Linked DNA regions of Homo sapiens. The protein of the gene in region 1 interacts with the protein of each later gene in a pairwise test. Each region holds a gene or a part of one and is shown on either strand. Other genes may lie near its edges.

The links.
Region 2: the proteins of ZNF337 (region 1) and MTUS2 interact in binary tests that used the Homo sapiens proteins (3 or more experiments, as listed by UniProt).
Region 3: the proteins of ZNF337 (region 1) and ATP5F1C interact in a two-hybrid assay, tested with the Homo sapiens proteins (one large-scale study listed by IntAct).

Annotation. Positions count from the first base shown.
Region 1 is NC_000020.11:25,672,765-25,676,419, reverse strand, and holds the end of ZNF337 (zinc finger protein 337), read left to right. Parts: coding exon 1-1,388; 3' UTR 1,389-3,225; downstream 3,226-3,655. UniProt on the Homo sapiens protein: May be involved in transcriptional regulation.
Region 2 is NC_000013.11:29,026,324-29,029,978, reverse strand, and holds part of MTUS2 (microtubule-associated tumor suppressor candidate 2), read right to left. Parts: coding exon 3,076-3,655; intron 1-3,075. UniProt on the Homo sapiens protein: Binds microtubules. Together with MAPRE1 may target the microtubule depolymerase KIF2C to the plus-end of microtubules. May regulate the dynamics of microtubules at their growing distal tip.
Region 3 is NC_000010.11:7,805,052-7,808,331, forward strand, and holds the end of ATP5F1C (ATP synthase F(1) complex subunit gamma, mitochondrial isoform L (liver) precursor), read left to right. Parts: intron 1-1,922; coding exon 1,923-1,929; 3' UTR 1,930-1,959; exon of another isoform or gene 1,960-1,965; intron 1,966-2,607; coding exon of another isoform or gene 2,608-2,611; 3' UTR 2,612-2,750; downstream 2,751-3,280.

The DNA.
Region 1 (3,655 bases):
AGCCTTATGAATGCCAGGAGTGTGGGCGAAGGTTTAACGATAAGTCCTCATACAACAAGCACTTGAAGGCGCATTCAGGGGAGAAGCCTTTTGTGTGCAAGGAGTGTGGGCGAGGCTATACTAATAAGTCATACTTCGTTGTGCACAAGAGAATACACTCAGGAGAGAAGCCTTACAGATGCCAGGAGTGTGGCCGAGGCTTTAGCAATAAGTCACACCTTATCACACACCAGAGGACACACTCAGGGGAGAAGCCCTTTGCGTGCAGGCAGTGTAAGCAAAGTTTTAGCGTGAAAGGAAGTCTCCTCAGACACCAGAGAACACACTCAGGGGAGAAGCCTTTTGTGTGCAAGGATTGTGAGCGAAGCTTTAGCCAAAAGTCAACTCTTGTCTACCACCAGAGAACACACTCAGGGGAGAAACCTTTTGTTTGTAGAGAATGTGGGCAAGGATTTATTCAGAAGTCAACCCTTGTGAAACATCAGATCACACACTCAGAGGAGAAGCCTTTTGTGTGCAAGGACTGTGGACGAGGCTTTATCCAAAAGTCAACCTTCACTTTACACCAGAGGACACACTCAGAGGAGAAGCCTTATGGATGTCGGGAGTGTGGGCGAAGGTTTCGGGATAAGTCCTCCTATAACAAGCACCTGAGGGCACACTTGGGTGAGAAACGTTTTTTCTGCAGGGATTGTGGGCGAGGCTTTACCTTGAAGCCAAATCTCACCATACATCAGAGGACACACTCAGGAGAGAAGCCCTTCATGTGCAAGCAGTGTGAGAAAAGTTTTAGTTTGAAGGCAAATCTTCTTAGACATCAGTGGACACACTCGGGGGAAAGGCCATTTAATTGCAAGGATTGCGGGCGAGGCTTCATCCTAAAATCAACTCTCCTCTTCCACCAGAAGACACACTCAGGGGAGAAGCCTTTCATCTGTAGTGAATGTGGGCAAGGATTTATCTGGAAGTCAAATCTTGTGAAACACCAGCTTGCACATTCTGGCAAGCAGCCTTTTGTATGCAAGGAGTGTGGGCGAGGCTTCAACTGGAAGGGAAATCTCCTCACACACCAGAGGACACACTCAGGGGAGAAGCCCTTCGTGTGTAATGTGTGTGGGCAAGGCTTCAGCTGGAAGAGAAGTCTCACCAGACACCACTGGCGGATACACTCAAAGGAGAAGCCTTTTGTTTGCCAGGAGTGTAAGCGAGGCTATACCAGTAAGTCAGACCTCACTGTGCATGAAAGAATACACACAGGAGAGAGGCCTTATGAATGCCAAGAGTGTGGACGAAAGTTTAGCAATAAGTCATACTACAGTAAGCACTTAAAGAGACACTTACGTGAGAAGCGTTTTTGTACAGGGAGTGTGGGTGAGGCTTCATCTTGAAGTTATATCTCACCATCCATCAGAGGACACACTCAGGAGAGTAACTTTGCTTTGTTACAAGCTTTAGTTGAGGCTGCATAACTTGTTCGTGAAGATATAACAGAGGCAGACAGAATCCAGAGGGCTACAGAGAACCTGAATTCAACCCATGTGTCCCCAAGAGATTCAGAGAAAAGAGGTCAATGTTTAGGGAACAGAGATGCCAGTTGAGGGGAGGGCATTACCTGGGCTATTGGGGAAATGTGGTCTCTTTCCTACTGAGCACATATTCTTGTTGTATTTGTGCCAGGCTGTGCTTTCTAAGGACTGCTCTTAGCCAGTGACTGCAGAGCAGGGATACCAAGGCAGGCCTGTTACACTCTCCCCAACCTCCTTGGACTGCAAACAATCTAGGACACCTCCACCAAACCTCCTCTTGCACTTTCCCTCTGGCTTCCCTCCCAGCCTTCCTTGGTTTGGATGTTTTGTCCCCTCCTTAATTTATGTTGAAACTCTACATAAACTGTTTACTGTTGAAACAGTGTAAGTATTAGGAGGTGGGACCTTTGGGAAGTGATTAAGTCAAGTCACGAAGATAGAGCTTTGCGAATGGGATCAGGTGCCCTTATGAAAAGGCTTGATAGAGGGAGTTTGTCCTGTGGCCCTTCTATTTTCTGCTCTGTGAGGACACAATGCTCCTCCCTTCCAAAAGATGCAGCATGAAGGCATCATCTTGGAAACAGACATGAGCCCTCAACAGACAACTGCACCTACTGATGTTTTGATGTTGAACTTCCCAGCCTCCAGAACTCTGGGAAAATAAAGTCCTCTTTATACATTTCCTAGTCAGTGGTATTTTATTATAACAGCTCAAATAGACTAAGTAACTGCTCCCCTCATCATTCTCTCACAGTCATATCTGGAAATAAAATCTCTGTATATGCAGTCCCATATTGGTCTTTGCAGAGAACTCCCTCCAACACAGCTGATACCAAGAACAGTCTGACAAAACAAGTGGTAAAATAGGGATCTGGGGACCACTCACCTGCCTGGCAGGAGTAAAGCATGTTGGCTGGTGGGGCACAGGTAGGTGGTTAGCTGCAAAATATTTCACAGGTGATTTCCTGAGAAAATGCCTCAATGATAGAGAATGCTGTGGCAGATGTGATGATGCAGGCCTTTGAAAATGTAGGGAAAGTGCCTACAAAGAGCAGAGTAGACTGATTATCGCCGATCTGCATTACCACCTGCAGAAGGACCTTGAGAAATTGAAGACTTCATTCAGCCATTAGCAAACAGTTAATGGTTAAGTAAACCAGGACTCCCTGGTGAGTGCTTACAAGGCCTTTATCTTCTTGGATAGAAGGCAGAATTATTGCCCAAATATGTGGGCTGAAGGCCTGTAGCAGAGCTCTACAGATGTTGGAATGCTCAGCCAATGCATGTCTATTTTGTAGAGGTCAGACCCTTCGTAAGGAAAATCTGGGATCCTGAAAAATGACACCGGAACATCTCCATGGATGCCCAAGATTGCCTCTGCCATGCTCCCAGCCACAGACCATCTGGGTGTGTAGAGATGGCCCATCCTTCCTTAGGAATAGCATTTCCACCATTCATTACCACAGAACCTTCACAATTAAGGCCAGCTTAATGAGCATGTGCCCTACATAGCTGCACACAACCCTTGTCCAGCACAGGGAAGATACATGCAATATGCCTATCCTTTTGTAAATGGTATTTGTGATGCTTGCCCTTCAACTTCCATAACTTTCCTCATACTCATTTTGAGTTTCACTGCACATTGTGGGTTCACCAGAATTCTGTGCTCCTCTTCCATATTAAACACATTTACATCTGAGTGATCTGGGACACTGACAGCCCCAAGAGACACCACTGTCCATTTGGACCCAGAATTTGATTTGAACTCAGAAGACAATGTCTTAGCATAAACAGCCAAGGAACCCGGTCAACGCATTTCCTGCTCAAGTTCCTCTTATTAGCCAACCACTTGTGTTGAAAATGATCACACACAAGGGATTGGAAACATAAGGCAACTCATAGCTACTTTCTCTGTTTCTTACTCAACTTGAAGTTAGAGTGCACTGGTAGAATGTGCATATGGAGAAGTGAAGTAAAACAGTTGAATTAGACATTAGACACAGTGGTTCACGTCTATAATCCCAACACTTTCTGATGCCAAGTTGGGTGGATTGCTTGAGTGTAGGAATTCAAGACCAGCCTGGCCAAAGTGGCAAAATCCCATCTCTAAAAAAACTAGCCAGGTGTGG
Region 2 (3,655 bases), on another chromosome or scaffold:
GATATGGTTGGCTTGTCTGTGCCAACTCTTATGTTGAAATGTGATCTCCAATGTTGGAGGTGGGGTCTAGTGGGAGGTGTGTGGGCCATGGGGGCAGATGCCTCATGAATGGCTTGGTGCCCTCCTTTTGGTAATGAGCAAGTTCTTGCTCTATTAGTTCCCATGAGAGCTGGTCCTTAAAGAGAGGCCTGGCACCTCCTCCACTCCCCTCTTGCTCATCTCTCACCACGTGATCAATGCACACGTGGTTCCCCTTCTTCTTCCCCCTTGAGTGGAAGCAGCCTGAGGCCTCACCATAGGCAGATGCTGGTGCCATGCTTCCTCTCCAGCCTGCAGAACCATGAGCCAAATAAACCTCTTTTCCTTATAATTTACCCAGCCTCAGGTATTCTTTCATAGCAACACAAATGGACTGACAGGTCTCTTCATGGAACCTCTGCAGTGATTCCCTGCCTTATAGAAGAGCAAAGCTTCAGAGCCTGACCCTGAGCCTCAGAGGCCCAGGTGGATGAATGTTTAGAAATTTGAAAATGACTCACTATAACTAAACTCAGAGACTGACGTAAAAATCCAGAAGGGCAATTTGTTCACTTTTAATTGGAGACCACTGCCTAAAGCCAGACTCAAGTGTCCTCTAGCCAGAACACGTTCTCATTGCAGGGCACAGAGTAAGAAGCCACTTATAAACAAGATGCCATGCAGCCCCGCACAGCAAGACAAACCCCTGCCAAGCTGACTGGACCCCTGAATTCTCCAGCCAGAATCCTCTCTCTAGAGATGTGAGGTAGGAAGTCCGTTATAATCAGAGGCCTGTTGGCAGGCCCAGAGTCAGAACACAGGGAGCAAGCTGTGTGATTTGGTTGCTAAGGACCTGCGGCAAGGCAGCACAGCTGGTCGGCTTGTTGGGGCACCTCGTCAGTGATTGCCTAAGTCAATGTCTGCTGCCGAGAATGGATTCAACTTTGTCTTTGTGCTAGATATGACAACTTCTGTTGTGATTGATGCATTCTTTAAATATGCCAATATATCTAACCAAGCTAGAGTCCAAATTTGGACTCAATCATCCTATCTCTAGAAACCCTTGGTACACTTTTGTTTAGTTCCAACACATATGGAGTTCATGATTCAGTTATCACTCAACATTTTTTGAGCACATACTTATAAGAAGCACCATTCTAAATTCTGGGAACACGGGGAACAAAATATTGAAAACAATCCCTTCCCTCATGGAGTTTACATTATAGTCAATTCAGGAAAACTAAAAAAGTATTTATGGCAGGTGGAGGTAGGTGCTAGGAAGAAATAAATCAGAGAAAAGGGATTCAGAGAGAAGATGGGTGGCCTTCCCAAGGAGATAACATTGGAACACAGACCTAAAGGGAGTGAGGGAGAGAGCCATCTGGATAACTGGGAGAACATTCCAAGCAGAGGGAGGTGCAAAGGTCCTGAAGCAGCAGAGTGAGAAAGGGAGAGTGGAAGGAGAGGAGGGCAGGTAGCTGACGGACCCCCAGTGAGCACATCCCATCCTAAAGGCAGAGCCATCCTACAGGCTCCAGCTTGTGTTCCAAGCAACCTGGGCAGCCCTGGAAGGTGTTAGAGACAGGATGATCTCATCCTGCCCTTGTTTTTGAGACTGAGTCGCGCTCTGTTGCCAGGCTGAAGTGCAGTGGCGTGGTCTCAGCTCACTGCAACCTCCACATCCTGGGTTCGAGCAATTCTCCTGCCTCAGCCTCCCCAGTTCCTGGGACTACAGGCACATGCCACCACACCCAGCTAGTTTTTGTATTTTTAGTAGAGACGGGGTTTCACCATGTTGGCCAGGATGGTCTCGATCTCCTGACCTTGTGATCTGCCCATCTCGGCTTCCCAAATGCTGGGATTACAGGTGTGAGCCGCTGTCCTTGGCTCCTGCCTTACTTTTAACTGATCACTCAGCTGTCATGAAGAGACTCCTTCAGGAGACAAATCTTAGTTCTGAGGTCTCGAAGGATGACTCACCATAGCTAAAAAGGACAGCACAGTGCAGTCTGAAACTGCACAGGCCTGAGTGAGACTCTCAGAGCTCTCCTTCCTTTGTGGTGGGTGACTTAAAGCTCTCTGTCTGTCTCTGTATCTATACGGTGATAAAAACTGCAATACCGGCTGGGCGCGGTGGCTCACGCCTGTAATCCCAGCACTTTGGGAGGCCGAGGTAGGCGGATCACGAGGTCAGGAGATCAAGACCACGGTGAAACCCCATCTCTACTAAAAATACAAAAAAGTAGCCAGGCGCGGTGGCGGGCGCCTGTAGTCCCAGGTACTAGGGAAGCTGAGGCAGGAGGATGGCGTGAACCCAGAAAGTGGAGTTTCCAGTGAGCCGAGATCGCGCCACTGCACTCAAGCCTGGGCGACAGAGCGAGACTTCATCTCAAAAACAAAGAAAAAGCCAAAAAAAACATAAACAAACAAAAAACTGCAATACCAACCCTCAGGGAATTACTGCAAGGATTAGTGAAGATTAACAAAGATCAAACGCTGTATTATATGGGCCCAGTGTAGAGCTGGCCCTCAATTATATGTTAGTTGTAATTATTACTTTTATTTTAAAGAAAGAGTCCATGCCTAACACACCGTTTTCTGCTCATTTGCTGTTCTTCACGCATGCGAATAAGAGATACTCCCAGGTAGAAAATACTCCCCATTGAGGAATGAGTCTGATCTATTTGAAGAACACAGTAATTTTGCATTCTTTCTTCCTTTAACCTGGCTTATATTATATTATATTCACTTATTTAAACATGGAAGCCTATTTAAGGCATACTCATCTAATTTCATATGAATTATAGCAAGTGAAATTTAAATGGGTCTCCTTAGATATTGGGTACATCTTATTAAGATAATCAGACTCTTCTAGTTAAAAATGGTCATTTCTCTAGACAATCTCCTCTAGTCAAAAACTCCATTTCTTCACAAGTGTATCCATGAAAATCTGTAATTCACTTAAAGAGGACATTTTACTTTCATAACTCATTGAAAATATGTCACAGATATTGGGACAGTCAACTTATAGACCATATCATAATGACATTCTCTTACCTCCTGCAAAAACTTTTCACTCATTTGACTGAAAGGATGTCCCGGGGGCTTGATTCCAGACACCATCAATCCGGAACTGAAGACCCTTGGCTTCTGCAGGTCTGGCTTGAATTTCTCATAGAGGTTGGCAGATGGCTTCAGGTCACCACCTGCTGCCTTCTCTTCGTGGGGAAGAGGCATGGTACATGTGGGCGGGGCATATGGAAGCCCCACTGGAACCAGCGAGGCGTCCACCTGGCCCAGGGCCTGGGGATTCCTCCTGATGTAGGTGATGATCTTGGGCCTCACATGCTTGGGCTTGGGCATAATGATGGGCTTAGTTTCTGTCCTCTCCTCTGTTTTTTCAACCTGATAGTTCTCCATTCCCTCCTGCGAGGAAGGTGTGTCCTTGGAATGTGTGAAGACAGGCTTGGGGATCCCACTGGGGCAAGTGTTCTTGTCAGGCACTTTGGGGGACGTGTTCAACAAGCGTGCACTATCAGTAGGGGGTGGAACTACCAAGGGGGACCCCGCATCCATACCGAACACGCTAACATCCTGAAAACTGCTACTGGGTGTTGTAGGCTGGTAGGTCATGTTC
Region 3 (3,280 bases), on another chromosome or scaffold:
CAGCTGTGTTAGGACTAACCCATTCACAGCCTGGTCACCAATGTTCTATCAGCATCACAGAATACTGTCTCATGGTGTCTAGCTTGATGAACTTGGTTAGGATACTCTCTCTGTTACTCAGCTTTGTCATCTGTAACATGGGGACTAATACAAGGACTAAAACCTTCTATTAGCCATTATCCTTCTTGCCATCTACCCCATGTTAAAGCCAGGCTGATTTGTTCTTGGATCTTAAGTGTGACAAAGCCTGCGGGAAGGAACCACATTCTGAAGGTTTGTGGGCTGTGTGAGATCCAGAGAACCCAAGGGGGTTTTTTTGCTCTTGACAAACGAATGTTAGGTATGACCTATGATGATACAACTTCTGCAAAATTGAGGACCAGCCTATTTCTTCATTAGAAATGCAGGAAACCTGGCCGGGCGCAGGGGCTGACGCCTGTAATCTCAGCACTTTGGGAGGCAGAGGTGGGCGGATCACAAGGTCAGGAGATTGAGACCATCCTGGCTAACTCGGTGAAACCCCGTCTCTACTAAAAATACAAAAAATTAGCTGGGCGTGGTGGTGGGCGCCTGTAGTCCCAGCTACTATGGAGGCTGAGGCAGGAGAATGGCATGAACCTGGGAGGCGGAGCTTGCAGTGAGCCGAGATTGCGCCACTGCACTCCAGCCTGGGCAAAAGAGCAAGACTCCTTCTCAAAAAAAAAAAAAAAAAAAAAAAGAAATGCAGGAAACCTATTTAAAAGTAACAGAAACAGCTGGGTGCATTGGCTCATGCTTGTAATCCCAGCATTTTGGGAGACCGAAGCGAGTGGATTGCTTGAGCCCAGGAGTTCAAGACAAGCCTGAGCAACATAGCAAGACCCCATCTCTACAAAAATGAAAAAATTAGCCAGGCCTGGTGGCATGTGCCTGTTGTCCTAGCTACTCAGGAAATTGAGGCAGGAGGATTGCTTGAGCCCAGGAGTTTTAGGCTGCGGTGAGCTATGATCGTGCCACTGCACAAAACCAAGAATTTAGAAAAAGGAATCCACATAATTGGAAATTGAGTATTAAGTTTTTGCTTCCTAGGAAGGTAGTCTAAATCCTTATACAAAAACTTAGCTATGCAGTGCCAAGGTTGGATTGCTTGTGAATGGGTTTGCATGCTCTGTAACCTATCAGTTATTCTGAATCAAGACTTGAATATTTAAACATACTTGGAAAAGAAAAAGATCAAAAAACAAAATAAACATATTTGGCTATTTAGTAATATAATTAAGAACATGAGTAAACCATAGTATTCGAGGTCCAAGTATTAGTTGCCAGCCTAAAAACTAAATATGGCCAGGCGCAGTGGCTCATGCCTGTAATCCCAGCACTTTGGGAGGCCGAGGCGGGTGGATCACCTGAGGTCAGGAGTTCCAGACCAGCCTGGCCAACATGGCAAAACCCCGTCTCTACTAAAAAAGTACAAAAATTAGCTGGGCGTGGTGGCGGGCACCTGTAATCCCAGCTACTCGGGAGGCTGAGGCAGGAGAATGACTTGAACCCAGGAGGAGGTTGCAGTGAGCTGAGATCACGCCACTGCACTCCAGCCTGGGCAACAGAACAAGACTCCATCTCCAAAAAAAAAAAAAACCTCTAAATATATTGTGTTAATTTATAGAAAAATTGTAATTTAAATTACATATTCATAGTCTTGCCTACTTGCATGAGCATGTTTTTATTGCTTCTAACCTGGATTGAAATCTATGACTTTTTATAACAGTCATTGAGTCTGTTTCAAAGGAATCTTGTGGTAAGTATTTTTGCATGATGTACTCAAGGTATCAAGTTTAACAATTGACTTTTTTTCATTGGAAAGCATATGTGATTAACTAGCATGGATTGCTTCTTGACCTGCTTGTTTTGTGTTTGTCTTTTTCTTCTAATATAATAACCAGGGATTAATGAAAATCAAGTTCCATCCTCAGACAAGAGGTAAAGTTCACACATTCTTCCCATGTCTGTTCAGAAAAGAAACCTATTCAGATATAAGTTAAGCTAATTTAGTAATCCTAGAATTGTCCTCTGAGAGATTTAGATGGATGGGCCACTTCACAGTAGCAGCCAACTCACGGGAGCACCTGGGCAACGCTAGTGGACTTTTTTGTAGTGAGTGTGTTGATCATAGAAAATGTAGATATAAGGAAATAAACTTTGAGGATAGAGAATTAACATTATTTTGAGATATTATATATAGGTTGTGAAGAGTGGTGGTTGTCACACTTTATGGTCTCTGGACCCCTTAATGTCTGATTCATGTAGCAGAAGCCAGCTAGATTTTCATCTGTCTCTATTCATTTTGTTGTGATGTCATGGATCATGTGGCCTCTGGAAAACTCTACTGTATACTCGAGAATGAGAATATAACAGGCAAAATAACATTATCATGAAAATAGTTTTGACCTCATGAACCCCATGAAAGGTTCCCCAGACCAAAATTTTAGAATCACTGGTATAGGGTAACACTTTATTGTGTAAATTCAGTTCTCTGTACCCCACTTAAATATGTATTATTATCTCTTGACATTATTTTCCCAAAAAATGCTGTTTGATTTCTTACTTGTTCTGTACTTTGTTTTTCAGGTAAAGAAGGAAAATTCAGCCAGTTGATTTTGTTTTTAGCTTACTGCTGCCTTTGTCCGAAGAAACTGTTCCTCCATTATTTGAATTACTGAAGACAGCAAGATATTTGTAAATTATCTTAAAATAAACAACTTAAAATAAAATCATTGTTTTTCTTATATATAAGAACAATAGATATAGTTTTTGAAATGAGATGATACTAAAACATTTAAAAATATTAATATGCTACTATTAAAATTTTTTAGTAGAAGACAATTTAAGAGGCTCTTTTGATTTGGTAGTGCTCCACTGACCTTAAAATGTCTAGCCTCTATGGGGACAACGTAGAGGGAAAGGGCTGCAGCCACAGCCTCAGCCCAGTTCTGTGCCTTATTACAGCCTTAAAGAACAGTCAACAAGACCAGGCACGGTGGCTCATGCCTGCAGTCCTAACACTTTGGGAGACTGAGACTCAAGGTGGATCACTGGAGGTCAGGAATTTGAGACTAGCCTGGCCAACATGGTGAAACCCTGTTTCTACTAAAAACAAAACAAAATACAAAAATGGTGCACACTTGTAATCCCAGCTACTCAGGAGGCTGAGGCAGGAGAATCGGTTAAACCTGGGAGGCAGAGGTTGCAGTGAGCTGAGATCGCGCCACTGTACTCCAGCCTGGGCAACAGAGTAAGACTC